Linked DNA regions of Homo sapiens: regions 1, 2, 3 and 5 are each linked to region 4. The links come from fine-mapping of genetic effects on gene expression. A gene starts in region 4. Each other region holds a variant in brackets. All regions are shown on one strand. Distances are from middle to middle.

What was found. PIP is the estimated chance that this variant, and not a neighbour inherited with it, causes the effect.
Region 1: its variant is fine-mapped to the expression of FXYD6-AS1 in whole blood (INTERVAL, PIP above 0.99).
Region 2: its variant is the best candidate, but not a certain one, in a credible set for the expression of FXYD6-AS1 in cerebellar hemisphere (GTEx, PIP 0.57).
Region 3: its variant is the best candidate, but not a certain one, in a credible set for the expression of FXYD6-AS1 in whole blood (INTERVAL, PIP 0.53).
Region 5: its variant is the best candidate, but not a certain one, in a credible set for the expression of FXYD6-AS1 in whole blood (INTERVAL, PIP 0.54).

What each region holds. Positions count from the first base shown.
Region 1 is chr11:117,900,075-117,904,408 of GRCh38, forward strand. TMPRSS13 (transmembrane serine protease 13) reads right to left here. Exons shown (of 13, transcript NM_001077263.3): 11 at 3,885-4,027; 12 at 3,581-3,733; 13 at 567-2,191. The coding sequence ends at 2,165. Among named protein-coding and RNA genes, the nearest start is that of FXYD6-FXYD2, 26 kb to the left of the region's middle. The variant GCACACACACACA/G (reference allele first, on the strand shown) is at 1,998.
Region 2 is chr11:117,859,359-117,863,692 of GRCh38, forward strand. All of the region lies in intron 1 of FXYD6-FXYD2 (FXYD6-FXYD2 readthrough), which reads right to left. The region is part of intron 1 of FXYD6 (FXYD domain containing ion transport regulator 6); the gene reads right to left. Among named protein-coding and RNA genes, the nearest start is that of FXYD6, 15 kb to the right of the region's middle. The variant A/T (reference allele first, on the strand shown) is at 1,917.
Region 3 is chr11:117,852,836-117,857,169 of GRCh38, forward strand. The region is part of intron 1 of FXYD6-FXYD2 (FXYD6-FXYD2 readthrough); the gene reads right to left. The region is part of intron 1 of FXYD6 (FXYD domain containing ion transport regulator 6); the gene reads right to left. Among named protein-coding and RNA genes, the nearest start is that of FXYD6-AS1, 21 kb to the left of the region's middle. RefSeq lists an enhancer at 2,907-3,407. The variant G/A (reference allele first, on the strand shown) is at 1,784.
Region 4 is chr11:117,831,807-117,836,140 of GRCh38, forward strand. It overlaps FXYD6-AS1 (FXYD6 antisense RNA 1), which reads left to right and starts at 1,912. Exons shown (of 3, transcript NR_186291.1): 1 at 1,912-2,255. All of the region lies in intron 6 of FXYD6-FXYD2 (FXYD6-FXYD2 readthrough), which reads right to left.
Region 5 is chr11:117,801,660-117,805,993 of GRCh38, forward strand. It overlaps a transcript of DSCAML1 not described here. Among named protein-coding and RNA genes, the nearest start is that of DSCAML1, 6.6 kb to the left of the region's middle. The variant G/A (reference allele first, on the strand shown) is at 1,981.

The sequences.
Region 1 (4,334 bases), 68 kb after region 4:
GCAAGAAGAGGTAGATCGTTCAGAAGAGGCCAGTGGGACCACCCATCCGATTCCCTTGGAAATAGCTGAGTAAGCTTTGGGGTTTCCTTGTCAACATGTCTGTTGTTGAGCCAGCAAAGGCAGAAGTAGAGGAAGAGGAAGAGGGTAAGAACATGCCCTGGAGTGCCCTTCCCCTGCCCCCACCTGCTTTGTGAAGGTTCATTCCAAACCTGACCTCCTCTGTGAAGCTTCCTTGACATCTCTAGGTGTGGCTGGTGGTTGCTCTGTGCATGTTCCATGCGTGGTGTCCACACTCAATCACAGCTTCTATCACATTGGGTCATGACCCAGTTCCTTGAGGATGCTGTCATGCCCTTTGTATCTTCTGGGCCTAGCATGTGTACCGGGCACAGAGTAGGCACGGATGCAGCTGGTGAATGGAATGAATACATGAATGTATGGCTAAATGAGCAGAACCCAAAGATGAGGAACCAAAACTAAGAACCAAAACCAAGAGTGTCTGGGCACTAGGGTGGGCAACCTCAATTTGTTACCTAGGGTACCAGTAAAACATCCAAAGACAGATGTCTCAGGTCACACAACTTTTATTGCTGAAGACCATCGCTGGCGGCTGCTGCAGACAGGAATGTGGCCTCCTTCCCAGTCTTGCTAACATTCCCCAGTGTACCCAGCCCCATCAGCCCCTGCCCAGCCTCTCCAGCTTGCTCTTCTGGGGCAGTCTTTCCCTTGAGCGGCCATGGCCTGCCTGAGCTGGGCTAGGCTGGGCTGATCTGCTTGGATCCTGCCTCTGAGAAGCACAGCACCACAAAAGACTCTGACGGGCCCAAGGAAGGTGAGGGGAGCAGGACTGGCAGAGGAATAGGTGCCCCAGAAAAAAGGCTGGGGAAGGCCCAGGCTTTTAGCTGGCGAGTCCAGGCACGTTGATGATTTGCAGGAACAGGGCCAACTTAGATCCTTCAGCAGGGCTGCCTGGAAGGCATGGGACCATGTTAGCTTTCTCTCCATAGCAGTTTTTATGTCATTGCTATGTTTCTGAAACAACTGAGAAACTGAAAGGTGGAGAAAGCTGAGAAGAAATCCCAAAGTCCCAGGACAGCTACTGGGAATGAGAGAGGCAGTCCACCTGGACCTCCCTGGGGCCCCTGGGAGCCTACGCGGGAACAGCATCTGTTTCTTAACGCCTTCGTCAGAGCCCTGGGATGCAGAAACAGTTTGTGGACCTCGTCGTGTCGGATTTGCTTGCCAGCCCAAACAAGGATTTGCTTCCCTGAGTATCTCCTAGGGGCTCCAGATGCTGTAGTGACTTGGGGGATGCCCATCCTGGGGACTTTGTCCAGTCTCTTCATCCAGTTCCTTGAGGCCAGAAATATTCTGTAGGACTCTAAAATACGACATTTCCCATGAATCCCCTGGGGGTCTTGGGCTGATTGATGCCAGCTGTCAAGGCTTCTGGACTTTTTGGAGAATCTTTAAAAATACCCGTATTTTCATTTCTTAAATATAAAAATAAAATAAAATAAAACCCGCCCCAGCAGCTTGTGACCAAATGAGTACAGTGAATCCTCATCTCAGTTGTCAGCCTGGTTAGCCACAGCACAGTCCGACTGGTGACATCCACGGCACCAGCAGGGGGTCTGGGTGAGGACTTGATGCTCATAAAGCCAACGGGAGCAGCTTTTCACCGAAGACGGTCCAGGCCCTGGGAAGCTGCATCCACCAAAACCCACGATCCATCCCAGGACAGCAATGGCGCCACCTGGGCCGCTGGCATCTGCCCACACTGGGCTAGTCTGTAAGTGAGGGTCAGAGAAGCAAGAATTCCCAGCTCTTCCTTGGGCTCTGGGCTCCACCTCCTCCATCCATCTATGGACACTCCTGTAGGAACATCCACGGTACTCAACTCTTGTCTCCAGGTAATTTCCAGCCTGGGATTTTGAGAAGAGTTGACAGCTCTGCTGGTTTCTGAAAAACTTGGGAGAGTGGCAATGCACACATAT[GCACACACACACA/G]CACACACACACACACACACAGAGGCAGCAGACAGTGGAGGTGGGAGTCCGATGGTGCCCGGTGGCCATTAGCCCAGATGATGCCACACATGGCCAGTCACCATGGCCAGAGTCTTCACAGCAGCCGGTGCTGTGCAGAGCAGCAGGCCAGCTGGTTAGGATTTTCTGAATCGCACCTCGCTCTGAGGAAGAGAATGGGAGAAGAGGGTGAGGGTGGGCCAGGTGGGCGAGGAGCACAGAAGCCCAAGGTTGGGGTTCAGAACCTATAATTTAGCCTCGCTGTCACCTAGCACTGCCTCTCCAAGGAGGGAGAGCAAAGGGAAAGGATGGATGCAGGATTGGAGGGCCTCTCTGCACTAGATTTCTGGAGCCTTTTCTGCTCCCCCTATCTGAGCCCTCCCCTGTTCCCCAGGCAGAGAAGGGGAGGGCTGGCAGAGCACCCCCTGCTTTACAGCTAAAGGCTGAAGGCCCAGAGAAGGCAGGGTCTCAACTAGGTCAGCAGAGTTGCAGGCAGATCCCTGTTTCCTGACACCGAAATTCCTGCCGTGGAGGGAGGCCTCCCATCACTCCACTGCCAGCGGCCTGTGTGAACTCACATCTCGGTCATCCCTGGGAGAGGAGAGTGGCACTGGGGCTGGCACCGAGGTGAGGCCCACCTTTTATTCTTTTCATTTATTTGTTTATTCATTCATCCTTAATTTATAACAATAAATAGTAAATACCGAGGATATTCCAGGCATTGTAAATGGCTGATTTTGATAGATTAGTCAGAGTTCTTCAGTAAGAAAAATGGAAGATGAGAGGGTGGAAGTGGGAGAGGGGACTCTCTAGGGTGGATCAAGTATTCCAAAGGCCAAGGGCAAGGTAAGGCACACACTGAAGGGTCTGTGGTTCAGTTTGACCTGAGCAATGACTTCTGAGGTTGGATATAGGTTAAAGCAAGTCAAAAAACATAAAATAACTTTTTATTATTTTATTACTTTATACTCTTTTATGATAGTAGTGAGGTTCTGATGAAATATTTTAAGTGGGAAAGGGAAAGAATGGTAGTTCTCAGGGAGCATTCTGGTGACAGCTGTGAAAGTTGTCAGAGTTAAAATGGAGTCACTTGTGTTTTTAAAAAAAGACAACAACAACAACAAAAAGAAAATCAAAAAGACTAAAACAAACAGAGCTGGGAAAGGCCATGAAGAGCGGATTCCCATGCATAAATGCTTGATAACAAAAACTATCACAAAATCCTCTGCAGAAACTGAAACGTTTTCAAAGTCCATTGCAACCTTACACAAAAAAATACTTCTGGGAGAACATCTGCCCAGCAACTGCCTGCCTGGCCTGTAGGTCCACCCTTTTTCAACCCGCTGAGCTCTGTTCTGAGGGAAGAAAAGCAGGGAAAGAAACACAGACAGCTGGGATTGACCCCAGGCATCACATTTGACCCTGTCCAGAACACCCCCCGAATATGGGGACGCTGAGGGGACCTCTGCCTACAACCTGGGTGCTCCTCCAGGGTCCCCACCTGAGGAAGTTCCCAGCCTGCTGGGTGCAGTGTCCTGCTGCAGGGATCTTACCTCCATCTTGCTGTAAATCCAGGGAAGAACTTCTGTCACTTTGGTGTACACACCAGGTTTGTTTCTCTGGCCACAGCCTGTGCCCCAGCTGGTGACACCTGCCAGGTACCAGCGGTTGTTCTGCTCACAGACAAGAGGCCCCCCGCTGTCTCCCTGCAGGGGAGAGGGGGCACATTCGCAGGATGGGACAGGTGGTCCATGAGCGGGAAAGGGTGGGGTCCCAATTCCCACATCAGCCCCAACACCCCTGCCTCCCCCATCCCCAGGGTGCTGGGACCTGAGCCCCACCCACAGGTACCCTCACCTGGCAGGAGTCTCTGCCCCCACGAAGGTCCCCAGCACACATCATCCTTGGGGTAAGGTAACTGTCATAGACCAAGTAGTCATTGCATTTCTTGAAGTCGATGAGATTGACCTGCACCTCCCGGAGGAAGGGGGATGTCTTGTCTTCAGTGAAGTGGGGTGGAGGAGACAGAGGATGGGAAGCCAGTGAGATTCTAGATAGCTTCCTGGCCGTCCAGCTGCCACCCCAAGACCCAGAATCACAGCCTCCTGGGAATGGAGGGTGCCATGCCCGTGCCTGGCTCCCACCCAAGGGAGGCCCTCTGTGGTTGGACACCCAGGACATATGGGCACACACGCCCTCACACAAGACACAGCTCACTGCACGTGAGACAGAGACATCCATGCACACAGACACACTCACAAGCCTATCAGGCTACCCGACATGTTGCACAGCACTTGCCTACGTTCA
Region 2 (4,334 bases), 28 kb after region 4:
TGAACCAGAAGGCTGGACACAGAGGTCAGCCTGCATCATAGGAGCCCTTCTATGGATGCCACAGAAGAAACTAAGAGGAATTAAAAATTCTGAGATGAAAACCCACACTTGAGGCCCAGTCTGGGGGTCTGTATTGGATACAAGAGGTAATAATTATAATCACGACAAATGATACAGGCCAGGCACTATTCTTAGTGCTTTAAATGCTTATTCTCACTTAATCCTTAAACATAACCCGATGCTAACACTGATAATGTGCACCTGTGGCCCTTTCATGAAATCCAAGAACTAAGGAGGCCTTAAAAAGCCTTCAGAGCCAGTCCCTTGTCTCCAAAAGCTCTTGCTTAGCACAAATAAATCAAACTGTCCTCCCCCTATTTTCCTTCCAAACAGTAAGACTTGCTAAGGTCTTAGGAATATAAAGATCCCACCTCTCTCCCAGTACATCTGACCAGTCTGTCTGTGATAATTTTTAGTCCGGAGCTTCCCTGTTTTCATCCTTAGTCTGGTCGTACGCTACTCAGATCCACGCTACAGCAATAGCCACCTGCACCAAGCTCACCTTACCGCACAGCTGGGGTCATGGGAGAGGCCTATTCTCATCACCTGCTTGCTCCCCTGTGTGAGAGAGTGAGGAGTTGGGCTCCATGTCTGCCGAAGGCCTTTTGTTATCGTCAAAAGCATTTTACAGGGAAAGAAACTGAGGTAGGGAAAGAGAGGTGCCCTGGAGAATAAGTGCAGGATTCTGGACTTCAGCCCTGCTCTGTCTGCCTGGCTGTTGGTGGAGGGCAGGGAGTCTTCCTGCTATGAGTAGGTTTCCTTCGATCCCAGAGCCAGCCCCAAACTCCAGCCCTTGGGCCCCACCTCACAGGGAGGGATCACATCCATTTGGGGGCAAAGAGCCATGAGGGGCCACCTGCACTGTGGCTCTTTGAAGGGCCCACCTTTTCTAGGTAGCTGCCACCCTGTTTTCTCATTCCCATCCCAGTCCAGCAGGCTGAGGCAGCGAGATACAGGTACCTGAGAGAGCTCTGCGCAGAGAGCCACAATGCAGGGGCTCCCGCATCTGGATGAACATTTACCAAGCTTCCAGCATCTCTAGCTTCATACATATTCGTGCGCTAGAGAGACAGCAGAATGTACAATCCTGCCAGCTCACCCCTGAGAAAGCATTGATACTCACTTGTTGAACAGAGAGCTGTTTACTCGGGTGGGGGATTTTTAAAAACAGGCTACGGAACCCTGAAGCTGATTAGGCCGAGGGTGAGAGCATGGGGTGCGGGCAGCGCAGAATCAGTGCAGAATCTGCCAGTCCGTTCCCTTGTCCACTTTCCAAGGCTATGATCAAGGTCAAGTGAGATAATAGGTGTGAAGGTTCTTTGTAAACTGTAAAACACCCTGATAACAACATGTAACATTCGTAAGGTGCTCATGCCATACCAAGTGTTGTTCTAAATAGTTATATAACTCATTCTACCCTTACAATAGTCCTAAGAAGCAACTATTATTACGATCATTCCCTTTACACAGACGGGCAGACTGAGGTGAGAAAGATTAAGTAAGCTGCCCCAAATTCCAGAGCTAGAAAGTAGCAGAGCCTAGATTCAATCCCAAGCAACCTGGCTCCAGGGTCCTTGCTCTGAGCACTCAGCTCTCCCTCCTCTCTGCCACTCAGTGGCTCTGTGGCCTCGGGAGCGTTACTTGGCTTCTCAGAGTCTTGGCTTCTGCAACTGCAAGATGGGCCTAACAGCATGCATCTCGGGATCAGTGAGGGTCAGATGAGGTGGTCTTTGTGCCCACATCAGTCCCCTCTTCTGTGAATGACATCCCCTTTTGGAAGGGAGCCTGCTCTGTCCCCACTCGAACCCTGCTGGTCTATGGGAGCCTGCCAATCTCAGCTCCTTCCCTGTAGCTAA[A/T]AGACATGGTAGGAAAGACCTCAGCATCCTGCCGGATGAAAGGAGGAGGAGTCTGTTGGGGGAGAAGTCGGCCAATAGCTGACAGGTACAGAGCTGGCAGGGGAGAGAGGCAGGGAGGAGGGGCCCAGAGAGCTTCCTAGCTGTGCCTCAGGCTCCTGTGTTCCCACACCAGAGGGCCCCACCCTTCCCGAGTCTGGCTCTGTAAACTGATACCCCTGCTTCAACTAAATTAGATGGAGTTCTGTTGCTGTCATTTGCAATGAAAAGAGACGGCCTGTGGACGGAGCTGAGTGCAGCCTGGCGAATAGTAACTGCTGGTGAAGCATCACCTGTTAGTATCATTACTGTATCACTGCCCAACTCTGTCCTTGGCTTCCTCCTTCATTTCTACCTTTTCCAGGAAAATGGAAAGATAAACAGAGATAGGGGCTAGGGAGAGGGCCCAGTTACTTCCTCCCCCTTCCCTTCCTTTTAACATTGTCCTCCAACCACTGGAAGGCTCCAGGGTCCTCGTGTGGTCACAGGACGTGGAGGGTCCTCGTGAGGTCACAGGATGTGGAGGGGCCTCGGCCCACAGCTGACACTGGCTCCCGGCCACTGCCTTTTCCTGCCTCAAGACAAACATCCTATGTCATCCAGAGCTGCAGATATGTGGCCCAGGGAGGACACATCTGGCTGGGACAGCTAAAGCAAGGGACACATCTTCCCAGGCCCAAACTGAGGGCACCCCCACGAGAGACACAGAAGCAAGACAGACAGAGGACATGAGGCAGCAGGAGAGGAGAGAAAACCCGGAGGAGGAGAAACTGAAAAGGCGATGCCCCAGAGGAAGTGGGAGAGGCAGGCAAAGGAAAGAGAAAGAAAGAGGCTTCGAGACGGGAGAGGCTGGCCCAGGGGCCAAGTCCCCGCAGAAACTGAGCTGGAAAATGGGAAGGAGGGACACAGGTGGTGAAGCCAGGAGAGGTGGAGGCTGCTGAGAGAAGAGAATTGGCTTTAGAGGAAGCATCAAGCAAGCCCTCACGTCATCCTCCTCCTTCTGAGGCCTCGGCTGCCCTGGGTGCCTCCACCATGCCCTAGGTGCCTCCACCATGCCCTGCGTGCCCCACTCACACAGATGCACCTAAAAGCAGAGACAGGAAAATGCACCAGGGCAGGGTATGAGAAGGAAAAGTCAACAGACAGCTGCTGTTCCTGGGAGAAAACAACTCACGCCCTTCCCTGGCTACAGGGCCGCTGCCCAGAAGACACAGTGTCTCTGCTGGAAAGAGACCAGGAGCTGCGGCTATCCCAGACCGAGGCCCAGCCCACAAGGTCCTCAGCCACCTCCTCTGGTCACCATGCCCAATCTTCTTCCTTCACCAAGGTCATTCAAGGAGAAGCCACTGCCTCCCACAAAGGGCCCCTTCAGGGTATCTCTCTAGAAGGGTTGGGCCCTGAGACACACAGGCAGGGCCAAATGGACTTCTGCAAAACCAAGGTGCTGTTCCTAAGATGGCCCTGTTCCTCCCTCCTCCTTGGGTTGAGGAGGTCACGGCAAGATGTATCAAGATAGGAACTCTTGTCCCTCAGGCCTGGGCCCTTCAGTGTATCTGTGACTGTCAAAAGAGAAAGGGGAGCTGCTGTGTCTTACATGTTGCATATTCCTGTTCCCTGCCCACATTGGTCAAAGGGGATGATGATGATGATGATGATGATGATGTGATGATGTTATACACCAGTCATTTATAAGACACCTTATTCACCAGATAACATTACAAGCATTAGCTCAAAGAAACATCACAACTCCATGGGATGTTGGTTATTACTGCTATTTTACAGATTAGAAAAGGAGAGGCTCAGGCTTATGCTATTGCCCAAGGCCCAACAGCTAACAAAAGCATACCTGGAACTGTCACTAATTCTGCTGGTGCCATGCACCTTCCACTCTTTCTTGCTGCCTCCCTGGCACATGTGGAAATGGGCAGGAACTAAGGGAAATAAAATTGGAGGCCCCAATTTATTCCTGGAATGCAAAAATGTTTCAACATATGAAAATCAAGCAATATAATATACCACATTAGCAAAACGGAGGGAAAAAAAACCACACGATCATCTCAATTGATGCAGAAAAAGCATTTGACATCAACATCCTCCCATGAGGAAAACATTCAACAAATTAGGAATAGAAGGAAACTACCTCAACATAATACAAGCCATAAGTTTAAAAAAAAAAAAAACCCACAGCAAACATCACACTCAATGGTCAAAGACTTAACGCTTTTCCTCTAACATCAGGAACAAGGCAAGGATATCCACTTTCACCATTTCTGTTTAACACAGTATTGGAAGTCCTAGCCAGAGCAACTATGCAAAATAAACAAATAAGTAAAAGGCATCCAAATTGGAAAGGAAGAAGTAAAATGATCTCTGTTCACAGAT
Region 3 (4,334 bases), 21 kb after region 4:
CATTCCAGGTAATTATTTCATATTTGTTTTCCATTTTCTGACTTCCTTTTTAACTGTTTTTATTTGCTGCTTAACCCACTCATTTACTTTTGTGTTTCAATGGTCATATTATTAATTTCTAAAGGTTCTATCTGGTTCTTTTTGAAATTGCCTGGGCATTTGTGTTAGTCTTTGTTGTTCACTCATTTTGTGTTCTCATCTCTTATTCTTTCAACATTTCTTACAGTTATTTTATATTCTGTATCTGATAATTCCAAACTCTTAAATCCTTGGGGGTCAAAATCTACTTTTTGTTTCTGTGCCTTTCAATCACAGTGACTTGTTTTTTCCTGTGTTTGGTAATATATTCGATTGTGAGCTCATATTTGCTAGATTTTAATCTGTGGGAAATTGGTAGTCCTAAAATGGGACACTTTCTTTCAGAGAGCATTTGCTTTGCTTTTTCATGGAGGCTGGGGGCAGCAGATACCAACCTGAGATCACTTTAGCCCCTCTCAAGGGTTCTTGGCTTCATGCAGGTAGTCTCAGGTTTGGCTTCCCAACCTTGCTGGACTCAATGCTGATTAGCCTACAGAATGCAGTAATGTCAATGAGGGTGCATTCTAAGAGTAACTATGGCTTAAGTTCTGGCTAAGCTTCACATACTCCAGTGCTAGTTTTTGTTTTGTTTTGTTTTGTTTGAGATAGAGTCTCACTGTGTCACTCAGGCTGGAGTATAGTGGCACAATCTCGGCTCATTGCAACCTCTGCCTCCTGAGTGATCCTCCTGCCTCAGCCTCCCTAGTAGCTGGAACTACAAGCATGCACCACCATGCCCAGCTAATTTTTGTATTTTTAGTAGAGACAGGGTTTCACCATGTTGGCCAGGCTGGGTCTCGAAATCCTGACCTCAAGTGATCCTTCTGGCTCGGCCTCCTTAAGTGTTGGGATTTCAGGCATGAGCCACCATGCCTGGCCCAGTTATCTCATGGGGTTTTTGTTTTGTTTTGTCTTTTTGGTAGTGTTTGGTGTGGGGAGAGTAACGGTGACTTAAGATTGGATGATTTTCATTCCTTCTTTAAACCAAGCTGTGTAATAGTAAACCTGGGATTAATTATTTTAAAGTGGAAAGTCCCCTTATGATTCAGGCAGTCATACAGTCCTAAAATATCTTCAATCAAAGTATGAAATAAGGTAAGTTTTGAGCATCTGCTATCTGTAAAACACCTCCCTCCCTCCCTCTCTCCTTCTCTTTCTTTCTCCAGTTTACTGCTGCTTCCTAGCCCAAGTCCCATCTCCAAATTACACCTGCTCCTTGCTTAGCCAGTGAGGAGGGAGACTGGAGTCAAGATGTGGAAGGTAGATGAAACAACACATTAAGGCCTTCAAATCTTAGGGGCCATGGTGTGAATATTGGATGTGAGGTGAGAGAGGGAAGGACAAATGGACCAGGCTTCCCACAGTGGCCTCTTGACCAGCTCTAGCCGGAAGAGGGAGTGCAGTGTTGGCAATAGGGCTCTTCCTGCCCCCTGGGAATAGGGAAAGCACATGTCAATGGCTCTGGGCCACCAGGGACAATGGGCAGCAGTTCAGGTTGCTGCTGTGCCTTCCCTTCAAACCCCAACAATCACCTCCATTGATGCTCAGGTTCAAATCCATTACACAAGCCAACACTGAACTCCTAGAAAGGGCCATACTATTCTGGGTTCTGCAAAGGATAAGTAGGTGAACAAGATACAGCCTTAGCTACCAAGGAGAAGTAGGATTTGGTGGCAAAGGGCTCTGATCCATCAGCAAATATGAC[G/A]AGAACTTCCCAACAGGTACAGACGCCATGCAACAATAGTCCAGAAAGACAGAGAGAAGGGGAGCAGAGAGCTCAACAGGGAGCTAGGGAAGTTTCCGTGGAGGAGCTGACATTCCAGCGGAACCTTAAGAGCAGGGTAGGATTTTGATAGACAGGGGGAAGGAAAGAGCAGAGGAAAGGCATTCCGGTAGAGAAGACAGCATGAGCAAAAGCAGTGAGAGGGGAAACAGAGAGTAGGAACAACAAATGGGATTCAGCTCAAGTTCAAGATCAGTTCAAGATGAGCCTTAACGCATTTCATGCAGTAGTAACTGTCCAAAGTGGCTTCCCCAAATGAGGTCCAACAGGAGACGGCCTTCATCCACCAGTAATGTCTGCTTAGCCTAGGAGGGGGCTGTGACAGCAACCTACCAAATAGCTGCCATTTCTAGTGTAAGATATCTTCCAAAACAGTGAACAACCCAGTTGGACTAAAGCATGATGGGGTGGGTGGTGAGAACTCAGATAAGATGGTTGGAATCAGATTGCAGAGGCTCTTGAGTGCCAAGCTAAAGAGTTAAGACCTGCCTTTGTATTCTAAAGAAAACATTTCTGATCAAGTGACAGTGTGAAAAGAAATACTGTCACAAATTTGAAAAGTGACCCATTCTCTACTCCTGCAAGCTGCTGTCCCAGCCTGGGCTACATCAACCACACCTCAGCATGGGCCCCTCGGGGTGGCGGGAGCGGGGAGGAGGGGGGCCTAAACCCATTTTTAAAAATCTCATCGGTGGTACGTTGGCACTGCCCCTGAGTCGAGTGGCCAAGTACATACACAGAACTTTTGAAGGGCCACAGAATGCCTTTGTCTCACTGCTGCACCCAGCTTGGCTTCCCTTCCATCTCATATACCACCCCTCTGCACCTCCCACCCTCCCAGTGACCACACATTCCTTTCTCCCTCCTTCCAGAGAGGAAGCTGGGCTGCTGGAGGCTGGCTGGGGTGGGGAGGGTAAGAGGCTGGGTGGTGAAAAATCTCAGTTCCGGGCGAGAGATTCTAAGGAGTAGATGGAAGACAGGAAGGAGGAGTCACTGGGGGAAGGAGATCCAAGGCTGAAGTGAGCGGAGAGGGCACAGGAACAGGGCATGCACCGCCACCTGCGCACTGGGCCCTGGACCTTTGCCTGGGGGCCTGAGGACCTGGCTCGCCAGCACAGGGGGCCTGAGAAATCATCACTGCTGGAGTGGGGGACTCCCTGGCTGCTTCACTCTCTTGCTCCCCAACTCTTCCCCTCTAGACCATTTGGACCACTCTCCCCATCTGGAGAATGGAACCAATCACACGTTGCTGCCTCCTCTAGGGTGTATTATGAGAACGAATTCTGTTTCCGCTCATTTTTCCTCTCCTTTCTGTGCTCTTGTTTATCTCCATATTGGCAAGCAGCTGAGGTTCTGGGTGGAAGCAGCACTTCCATGTTAATTTTCCTCTCTGATCCTCCTGCTTGGTTGCTGGCTGCATGTGCGGGAGAAAGCAATCAGAAGAGTTTCTCCGGCAATTATCTTCCCATACTGAGTCACATAATTTCACTTAATTGCTGGGTAAAAACTGCTCAGAAAGAGAAGCCACTAGTTGATGATATAGCAACATGCTCTATTATTTTTGATTCCACGCAGCAGTGAGGTAGATCAGAATACCCAGTTCCATTGTGAAAATAACTCAGAAACAACCTCCCTTGAAAATGCAGAGGCTCCAAATTACAGTGAAACTTCATTATCTCATCCTCATCCCTCCCTCCCCCTGCTCCCGAAGCTTCACTCGCCTCCCCTGGCATCCCACCTGCTTGCCTTCCTGCAGGCTCAGCCCACGGATGACAAGCTCTGAGGGGTCACCGGGCCTGGGTCTTAGCAGGATGCCCTGCTAAGAAAGATGAGGTCTCACTTCATACAGAACGTCCCGGAATGGGGCCTTTTATGAGGCCGCAGAATGCCTGGGCCCCACAGTTTAGTCTAAATGGTTACCCTAGACTATTATTATATGCAAAGGGATATGATTTAGCCTATGACGTATCTAGATCTTTGCAACCAAGAAGTCTATTAAAAAAAGATTCGACTGTGTATATATTGAGTATAACCAAGATGTGAGGTCTACCAGATGGAGTTAGCATCACAGAATTCATCACAGTTGGTTACAGTGATTGGGCTCCTGCTTTTTATTTGTGAAAATTGGGGCCCAAAGAGAGATGAGGTACCTGATTCATCCAGTTATTTAGGGGCAGGGCAGGGCTCAGAACATGCATTTCCCACTCTTGACTGCTGTTTTGATGTGCTGGGATTGGGAGGTGGGCAGAACAGGGCTGGCAGAGCAGTGGCCAGGAGGAACAGAGGGAAGGAAGGCTGAGCCCACCCCAATGCCAAAGGGAAGGGGGGTAGCCTGGCTGGAGCCAGGGAAGAGGGCGAGGCCCTGCAGGAATGGGGTGGCCAGGGACATGAGAGGGCAGGAGGGAAGCCACTGCCACTGATAGCCTCCTTGGATTGGAGATGGGAGGTGACAGTGCTGGCTTCAGGGAAGGTG
Region 4 (4,334 bases):
CTTTTGTCTCCTGACTCCTAAGTCTCAGGGCAGTCATTTGGGGTGGTCGTTGCTGGGTTGGTGGGGCAGGGAGGAAATAGGCTGGAATCCAGCTGACCTCTGTTTTCCTGGTGATCAAAGGCAGAGGCCCTCACCACCAGCTTCCCAGAATGGGGTTCTCCAGCTCCGCCAGCTCTGGCCTTTGTGGGAGTTTACAGCCTTGAACTCCAGGTCCCCAGATCAGTTCCTCCTGGTGTTGGCTTGCAGCTGGAAAGGGGCTCCAATGAAGCAGAAGCCAGAAGCACCTAGAAAGCCATGACCCCAGGCCCAAGTCAGTCCTCAGCTGCATAACCCGTATGGCCACTGGGCAGGGAAAGTGGCAGTTCCCAAGCCCCATTTGTCCCACTCAGAGGTCCTGAATCCTGAGGAACGCTGGCTCCTGCCTCCTGCTATGGTTGCAGGTGCCAGGTCCCTGGGGTCTTATAAGGCAGGGCTGGAAGGAGGTGGGCCCCAGAGGGTCCATTCCTTAAGTGTTGGCTTCAAGAAGGCCTGAGCCATGGTGCACAGAGGTTCTGAGAACTGCCAAAGGGCAATGTACTCTGAGAGTCAAGGTCACCAGCTGGTGACAAGGGCAAACCCATTTGACCCACCTCCCCCACAGTGAATGCCTTGGAGAGAAATGCATTCTTGACTGTTCTCAGAACTCACATCCAGGCTTGAACCACAACAGAGCCCATTCCTCTCCAGCTTTTCTTGGTTTTCTCCTCCCAGTAACCAAACTCCCTCTCACCTCTGGGAGAGGCTCGCCACCTCCGGGAAGACCTCGCGGAGCAAGCCCACCCCTGGTTACTCTTACCTTCCCTCCACCACCTTCCGGATGCCACTGACATGGCTTGAATGGCCAGCATGTGGCCGTGTCACCATTCTCTTCATTTATAGCACAGATTGCCAAGTCCCTGGCCTCCTTGAGGCCTCAGGTCGGGTAAGCTGTTAAACGTTTGTACCTGCACTGAGCCTGGTGCCCACTCTCCACACTTGGCAGCAATTCCACCCTATTCCAGGGTCTCAGTGGTTCCAAAGAGCTGCTTAGAGCCTCCCAACAATTCAGCCAGGCAGGCTGTGAGATGCCCATTTTACAGAGGACACTGCAGGTGGTCTGCAAACAGGTCAGAACATGAACCCAAGTCTAACAGAGACAAGAGGAACCCGGCCATCAGAGAATGAGGAGACAAGGAAATGGATAGTGATGCCAACATTTATAGCATAATGGCTACATGGAGAATTGTCACGGTGCTTCGATGTCCATTGTATCACTTTGACCCTGTGAGATAACAGAAAACATCTTGATGCATTTATTTTATAGGTGATGAAACTGAGGCTTAAGTGGCTTTTCCAGGGTTACACAGTGAGCAGGAGGCCCAGCTTACCCCAAAGCTAGGAAGGACTTGATTATTCAGAAAAGGAAACTGACAGAGAGGCTGGGGTCTTTCCAAGCTCACACTGTTAGAGCAGAAGGGACCTCGGGGATGTTCTGAGCCTCAGGCTCTACCAGACTGCCTCCAAGCCCAGCTCAGAGGTAGGAAACCGTTCTTCTGGATAGTGCAGGGGGGCCCACCCCCTCCAGTCCCTGCCATCCAGGTCCTTCAGGACATGCGATCACAGCATCACCTGCTCTGCCATCATTGCCTTGGCAGGTGCCCCACTGTTGTGCAACCAGGCCCGGGGCTGGGCTGGCCCCATCAGATCAACAGCTGGTTGGCTTGAGCCGGCTGAGTCTGCCCCCCTGGAGCTCAGCTGTGACAGCAATAAATCACACTAATGGAGAGAGGTGGCCATTCCTTCTCTGTGGCCTGGAGACAGGTTTTTCCAAAGCTCCTCCCCTGGCTCAGGCAAACACACCTGACCTTTCTCTCGCTGGGCCCAGGGTGAGGCAGAGCAGCCAGGAACAAGGTGGGGTGAACCAGACAGAGCTGGAGTGCTCTCCCACCCCTGCTTTGCCCAGCCTCCCCGCCAAGCCCATGATTCCAAGCAAGGTAAGGCCCTCCTCCCAGAGGAAGGGGCCAACAGCCCGGTGACCTTGGAGTGTGCTTCGCCTGGCACTCCCCTCACACCGCTCCCTACAGCTTGTACTCTGCCTCTGACTCTCTTCCAAGAACAATTTGGCAAGTTCTAATCTACATCTTGCAAAAAAAAAACAAAAAACAAAAAACAGAGAGGTAGGAGGGCCACAGCACCTGGGGTCCCAGAAGGCAGACTGACCTATTCCTACAGCAGGGGTAAGTAACGCAGAAAACCTCCAGGCAAAGAGACATGGAGATCTTCGAAATGGAATGGGGGGTGGAGGGAGTCACTGGGAGGCAAAAGGTGTGGGACACCTGAGGTTACTGAGACAGGGAACTTGGGATTCCCTTCTGGGAAATGACACAGCATGGCAGCTGTCCTTCTTATTCAGTCAAGCTACATTGCCTCATTAAACCAAATCACAGCTACAAACCAGTGCCACATGCCTGGAGGCTGAGTGGACACTCCTGGTCCTCCTCATGGAGATATATAGCACTCTGAGTTCTGATCCAGCTCATCTGTGTGAAGTCCTCAAACAAGCACATAGTAAGTGCTCCATAAACTTCAGCTGCTCATTTTTTTTAATTATTACCATTTTGACCATCATTTCTTCGATTGTTCTTCATGTGTCTTGTTTCCAGACCATTAGACTCCCACAGGAGGCTCCTTGGAGCATGGTCCAGCTAGTTTATGTCTTGAAGGGGCAGCCATGCTCCAGGTGCAGTCTTGGGAGCCATCTGATCACTGTCCCTTCTTCTGAGCATCTGCCTGCTGAAGGAGGCTAGGCCATGTGCTGACAAGCACTATGGACAGACAGCCCGGGGTCAAGTCCTAGCTCCTCCATCCCCCAGCTGTGTAACCTGGACCAGGACGATTGTATCTCTGACCAATCTCAGAATATAGCTGGATTACTAGGAGGAAAACTAAGTGAGTGCTTAGAGGCGGGCAAAGTAAGGATAACCATTTGTAGATGATGTGCTAGAGATGCTGACCATCATTCCTTACTCTTAACATAATTATTATGAGAAAAATTAGAACCTCCTCATTGGACTTCCTTATTCCTATGTCGAAGTATAATGTTCTGTTTTTACTAACGTATGGGGGGCGGCACACACAAAGCTTTGCATGTCTAGGGCCTCTAGGGATCTCAGCCTGGCCTCGCTATGAAATTTCTGCAAGGCCTGTCAATTCCCTGATGTATCACGAGTGTTCCCGAACAATAAGCTCATTTACCAGGTCTTGCTGTGACCAGATAGTTTTTAATCGCCATGATCACTGGGTTGACAGGTTGAGCTTGAGCTCTACCATAAGCCTGTGTCTTTCCAAAGGCCTGGGGGACCGAAGGCAGAAGCAAGAGCACACGTAGAGAAGGCACCGAGCAAGCGGATCTGTGCGGTTCTTCGGTTCTAAACAACTTGCGGAATCCAGGCGGACTCAGGGCCTGTGTGGCCACTGGGCAGGGAAGGTGGTGGTTCCCAGGCCCATCGAAACCACAAGGAGCACTGACTTCTGTCTCCTGCTATAGCTTCAGGTGCCAGGTTCACTGGGGTCTTAGAAGTTGGGGCTGGAAGGAGGTGGGCCCAGAGGGTCCCGCTCCTTAAGTGCTGGCTTCAAGATGGAAGATATTAAGACGTTCCAGGGGTCGATTCTTTTTTCAAGACCCTAAGATGTTCCAGGCTTCTGTAGAGCAGGCACAGTCCTTGCCCTCCAGGAATTGTATCAATAAAGACACAAAACACTAGAGGCAGAAGCTGCACACAGGCAACCTCCACGCAGAATCTGCCCACATCTGTGTTGGTTTGGCCAACAGTGGTTTTTAGAAAGTTGAGTCAGAGTGTCTTTGGGAGGACACCGTAGGTGACTGCAGGTGCCATGCCCCATCGTCACTCCAGCAGATTCACATATTGGCATTACCTGCCTGGTCTCTACAGTCTGGATGCCAAGTATGAAGTGTGAATATAAAGGCAGCAAACAAGTGTGATTGGGGCACAAGAAAGGGATTCGGCTGGGCGCTGTGGCTCACGCCTCTAATCCCAACAATTTGGGAGGCTGAGGCAGGCAGATCACTTGAGGCCAAAAGTTCGAGACCAGCTTGGACAACATGAAGAAATCCCGTCTCTACTAAAAATATAAAAATTAGCCGGGTATGGTGGAAGGCACCTGTAATCTCAGCTGCTCAGGAGGCTGAGGCAGGAGAATCGCTTGAACTCAGAAGGCAGAGGTTGCAGTGGGCCAAGATAACGCCACTGCACTCCAGCCTGGGCGACAAGAGCAAAACTCCATCTCAAAAAAAA
Region 5 (4,334 bases), 30 kb before region 4:
TGTCTAGGTATGCTTGCCACTTACTCTCTCATCATTTTGGATGATAATATTATGGCTCTAAGATCACTGGAGCAAAGGGTCTAAAGCCCTGGGGCTCCGCCTGTACAGATGCAGTCTCTGGGGTCCCATTGCCCTTGTTCAGGCTGCTGTCTCAGCAGTGACACCAGGATGGTTGGTCAGGGGCTGCGGAAGCCCCCAGCAAGGCAGGAGTCCCCTGAATAACTGTGGCCTCTCTCCTGCTGTTCTTTCTCAGCTCACAACTCTGAAATCGGTTGAGAAGCCAACCCAGAGAGGTTCCATGTAGTCCGGATTCGACAGAGCTGAAGCTCATTGTCACATTTCTCTCTGGGGAGCAGTGGGGTGGAAGGTATGGAAACTAAGAGAGATAGGAAAAAAAAGAAAGTGCAATGAGCAGAGCTAAACTTGCTGGCTTCCCAAGTCTTCCGGCATTTCTTCTGGCCCATGTGTCACTCACAAATGTGCTTATCAAATTTTATGAAAGTGTCTTCTACACTGGAAAACCTTCACCTTTCTCAAGTACCCAGTGCCCCCCTTTTTCACCTGTTTAAGGCTTCCCATTCAGCAGGGCCTGGTCAGGCACCCCCAGTTTTCCCTGACCAGGCCTCCTCTGGTCTCCCACTGCCTCAGACATCTACTTGGCCCATGGGTCTCATCCCTTTGTCTAGAATTGTGGCTATTTAGGCATGTGTCTGACTTGTCTCCTCTTCTAGACACTGGGCTCCGACCCTTTCGATTTGTACCTGCAGGCCCTAGCCTGGTGCCTCCTGGCTCTAGGGGTACACTCAGTAAGTGTTGATTTAATGACCAGATGGGCTCATTCTTATAAGGTAGCAGATATCTGATTACAGCCTCACGTGCCATGCCTTCCAGAGAGATGTCCCTTAACTAGGATCAAAGCCTTAAGCTTGAAAGTTCTCGTATTGGAGTTTCTCGTCTCTAAGAGTGAGCATTTGGCAGGACATTAGACCCCGCAGGAGTGCTGACCCCTAAAACCAAAGAAGTCTCAGCAGTTCCTGCTGAGCCCGCATCACTGTGGTCTTCACAGTTGTCATCTTGACCTTGTAGGCAGCGCCTCTAGGTTCCAGAGGCTTTATGTTTTCGTCCATTTCTGATTCTCACCTAAAAGGATCTGGATACATATGCCAGAATTGTTTTGATCATTATATAGATGAAGACACAAAGTCAGAGGAGTCCCAGAGGCATATTTGGGATGTTTAATACCATGACACTTACACAGCTCAAGCTTCAGATTCCTTTAGGGCCCTAGTAATGTGTTCACATGGTCAGATATGAAAACACTGTAGAATAATAGAGTTTAACTACTGTCAATCACAGCTGCTACCCTTTTCTGCTCTGGCTTCTCGGTGGGTCTGGTGAACATTTTGGGGGGATCTGACTCTGGCTTGGGATTGGTGGAATGTATTTATATGGTTCACAGGCCATGCACGTACTTCCAGGATAGGGAATGGCTTGCAGGAACACTCCTATCACCGACTGGGCCAGCTCACTGCGCTTTGTGACATGAAGTTGCAGAACCAGAAGTTGTATCACAGTATAACTGTGGCCTCAGGTGCCTGCACCAGGGGTGTGTGTGTAGCATAGGAAAGACAAGGTTTGAAATGCATGGAGCCAAAAGCCAGCTTATGTAAAGCTGTGAGCAGAAGTAACGTAAAAAAATTTTTTTTAATTTAGAAAGCATTTTTGAGGTGTGTCAGTTAATACAAATATTATGTTATCTGTCTGGATTTCATGATGGCATTTGTCAGTTTTTTCAAGATTTGTAACTTGTTGCAATTTCTTTTTATCTTTCTAAATTAATAATCACATTTGATTATTAATATATTAATGATCATATTTGTATCTAATTTTGTATTCATAATTGTGTATTGTTTTCCTTAGTGAGGCCTAAGCTTCCAGCCCTCAATGGTCTAAGCTTCCAGCCCTGCAAAACCTGAATCC[G/A]TCCCAGGAACTTTCCTTGGGTTACACTGTGGCTGGGGACCAGGTTCTCTGGATTCTGGTCAGGGCTCCCCGCTTGCCTCAGAGGTCTTAAGTCTGTATGTCAATCATGTATTTGTACAGTGCTGTTCACACAGAAGCCCCCTTGGAGAGATTTTCCTCCCCAGAGAAGAGAAAGTCAAGGCCCAGGCCCATGGTGGTGACCTTGACTTAGATGATGAAAGTTCTCTTCCTAGAAAGTCTGCCCATTTCACCACAGGCTGGACTTGCCAGTCCATGCGCTGGAGGATCTCAGGATGGGAGACAACTTGGTGCTGCCGTAACGCCTTCCACGGTCTCTCTGCAGGGCAGCATCCCTCCTGTCACTGTGACTGGCCACCAGCATTGTGGACCGAGACCCTCCTCAAAGTCCAGGAGTTGCTACAAAACACTAGCAAGTCCTCCAGCCACTCTGAGCAGGAGAAATGTGCGGCCCAGAAATTCCACCTGCTGGAGGCCAAAGCCACGGCTCCTGGGGTGCCCCAGTGGTGAGTGGGCTGCAATTTGGGACAGTGAGGCTGAACAAAGACATTGCCTGGAGACCACGGGGAATGTTGGCCCCTCAGTTACAGAATCTGAGAGGGGGCAGTGCCTTAGAGCTCAGCTCACCTGGCCCCATCTCATACCCACTGGCTTTCTACACCGACCCAACAGGTGTCAACTCAGTCTCTCAAATGCTGCCAGGGAAAAGGGGCTTGCTCCCCACACAGAAGTTTATCTAATTTCACTGTCCACAGTCATGTACACATGCTTTTCTTTATCAAGCCCAAATCTGCCTTAGCTTTCTGGAGTTCAAAAGATGTGCCCAATCTGGACAAAATGACAGCTATTCAAATATTCAAGAACTGCTACCGCAGGCCCCCACACCTTCCTTTTGCCAGGCTACGTATCTTTTTTCTTTTCTGACATAATTTCTAGACCTTTCCCTATTCTGGTTTCCCTCTTTGCTTATATTCAACTTTAGCAATATCTCGTCCGGGCATGGTGGCTCACGCCTGTAATCCCAGCACTTCGAGAGGCTGAGGTGAGAGGGTCACTTGAGCCCAGGAATTCAAGACCAGCCTGGACAACACATGGAGACCCATCTCTACAAAAACATTTAAAAGTAGCCAGGCACGGTGGTGCATGCCTGTAGTCCCAGCTACTCGGGAGGTTGAGGTGGGAGGATCTTCTGAGCCTGGGAGGCTGAGGATGTTAGTGAGCTGTGATTGTACCACTGTGCTCCAGACTGGGTGACAGACTCTGTCTCATAAAAGAAAAAAAAAATCTCTCTTAAAACAGAATAGACTCATGAATCCGGATGAGGTCTGAGCAGCTCCAGTCCAGCGCCATCACCCCCTCAGTAGGTAGCTGATCTTCTCTTACTGTTGTCCAATGTTTTGTTGGATTTCCTGGGCTGACATGCCAATCACTCTGGACCACTATCCCACGAACTTCTACTGAACTGGCCTCCTTGGCCTGTAATCCTGATGTGGATTATTTGAGAGAAAACATGATCCCATTCATCATTTGGTGAAAGTTGGGAAATGGGGTGTTGCCTGGGTCAAATGGCACTTACTTACACAATGGGTGACTCAGAATGTCATCTAAGGTCCTAGCCCAGCCCCAGTGAGGGTGGCAGAGCTCAGCTAAGAATGCAGCAATAAGGTTCCCATTTCAGGCCACAATGACATTGAAACCCAGCATCTTTACCAAACTTGACCTTATTTTTGATAAATCCAGCAGAAAACAGAAAAAGATCTAACATAGCATTTCACAAGTGTTTCATGAGAAGGTAATAGGTAAGGTGCAAAAACTGATCTATGGTCAAATAGGTTTGGAAAACAGTGGAATAATCAAAGGTAAATAGGTTTTTGTGGGAGTTGTTTTTGTTTTTGTTTTTTACTGCAGGCTTTAACACGCTGGTGGGCATTGTCAATCTCCAAGTGCTACAGTATGAGGTTTTGGGGGATCCATTTCCCACTTCTCCTGGTTAAAAACTCTGTTCTTTCACTGTTTCTGGTCCACACCTGGCCTAAAGGAAGTACATTTTGTTGGTTTACTCATTCTTTTGGCAACTCTGTGCCCAGCCCCTGTGCAAGGAGTTCCCCGATCCCTGGAAAGTCTAGCACAGAGTCCCTGCCCTCAGGAAGCTTGCATTCCAGTGGAGTAGAAGATGTTTAAAGAGCAACACAGGGAAGCCTACATGCTCAGAGTCAGCAGGTCAGAGTGTGAAGGGACCTGGGGAGCATCTCCTGCAAGTGCCTAGGAAACAGTGGCTGGCAGGTGAAGGGCGTCCCAGGTCACATGGCAGAGTCAGGGCTTAGGTCCAGGGCTCC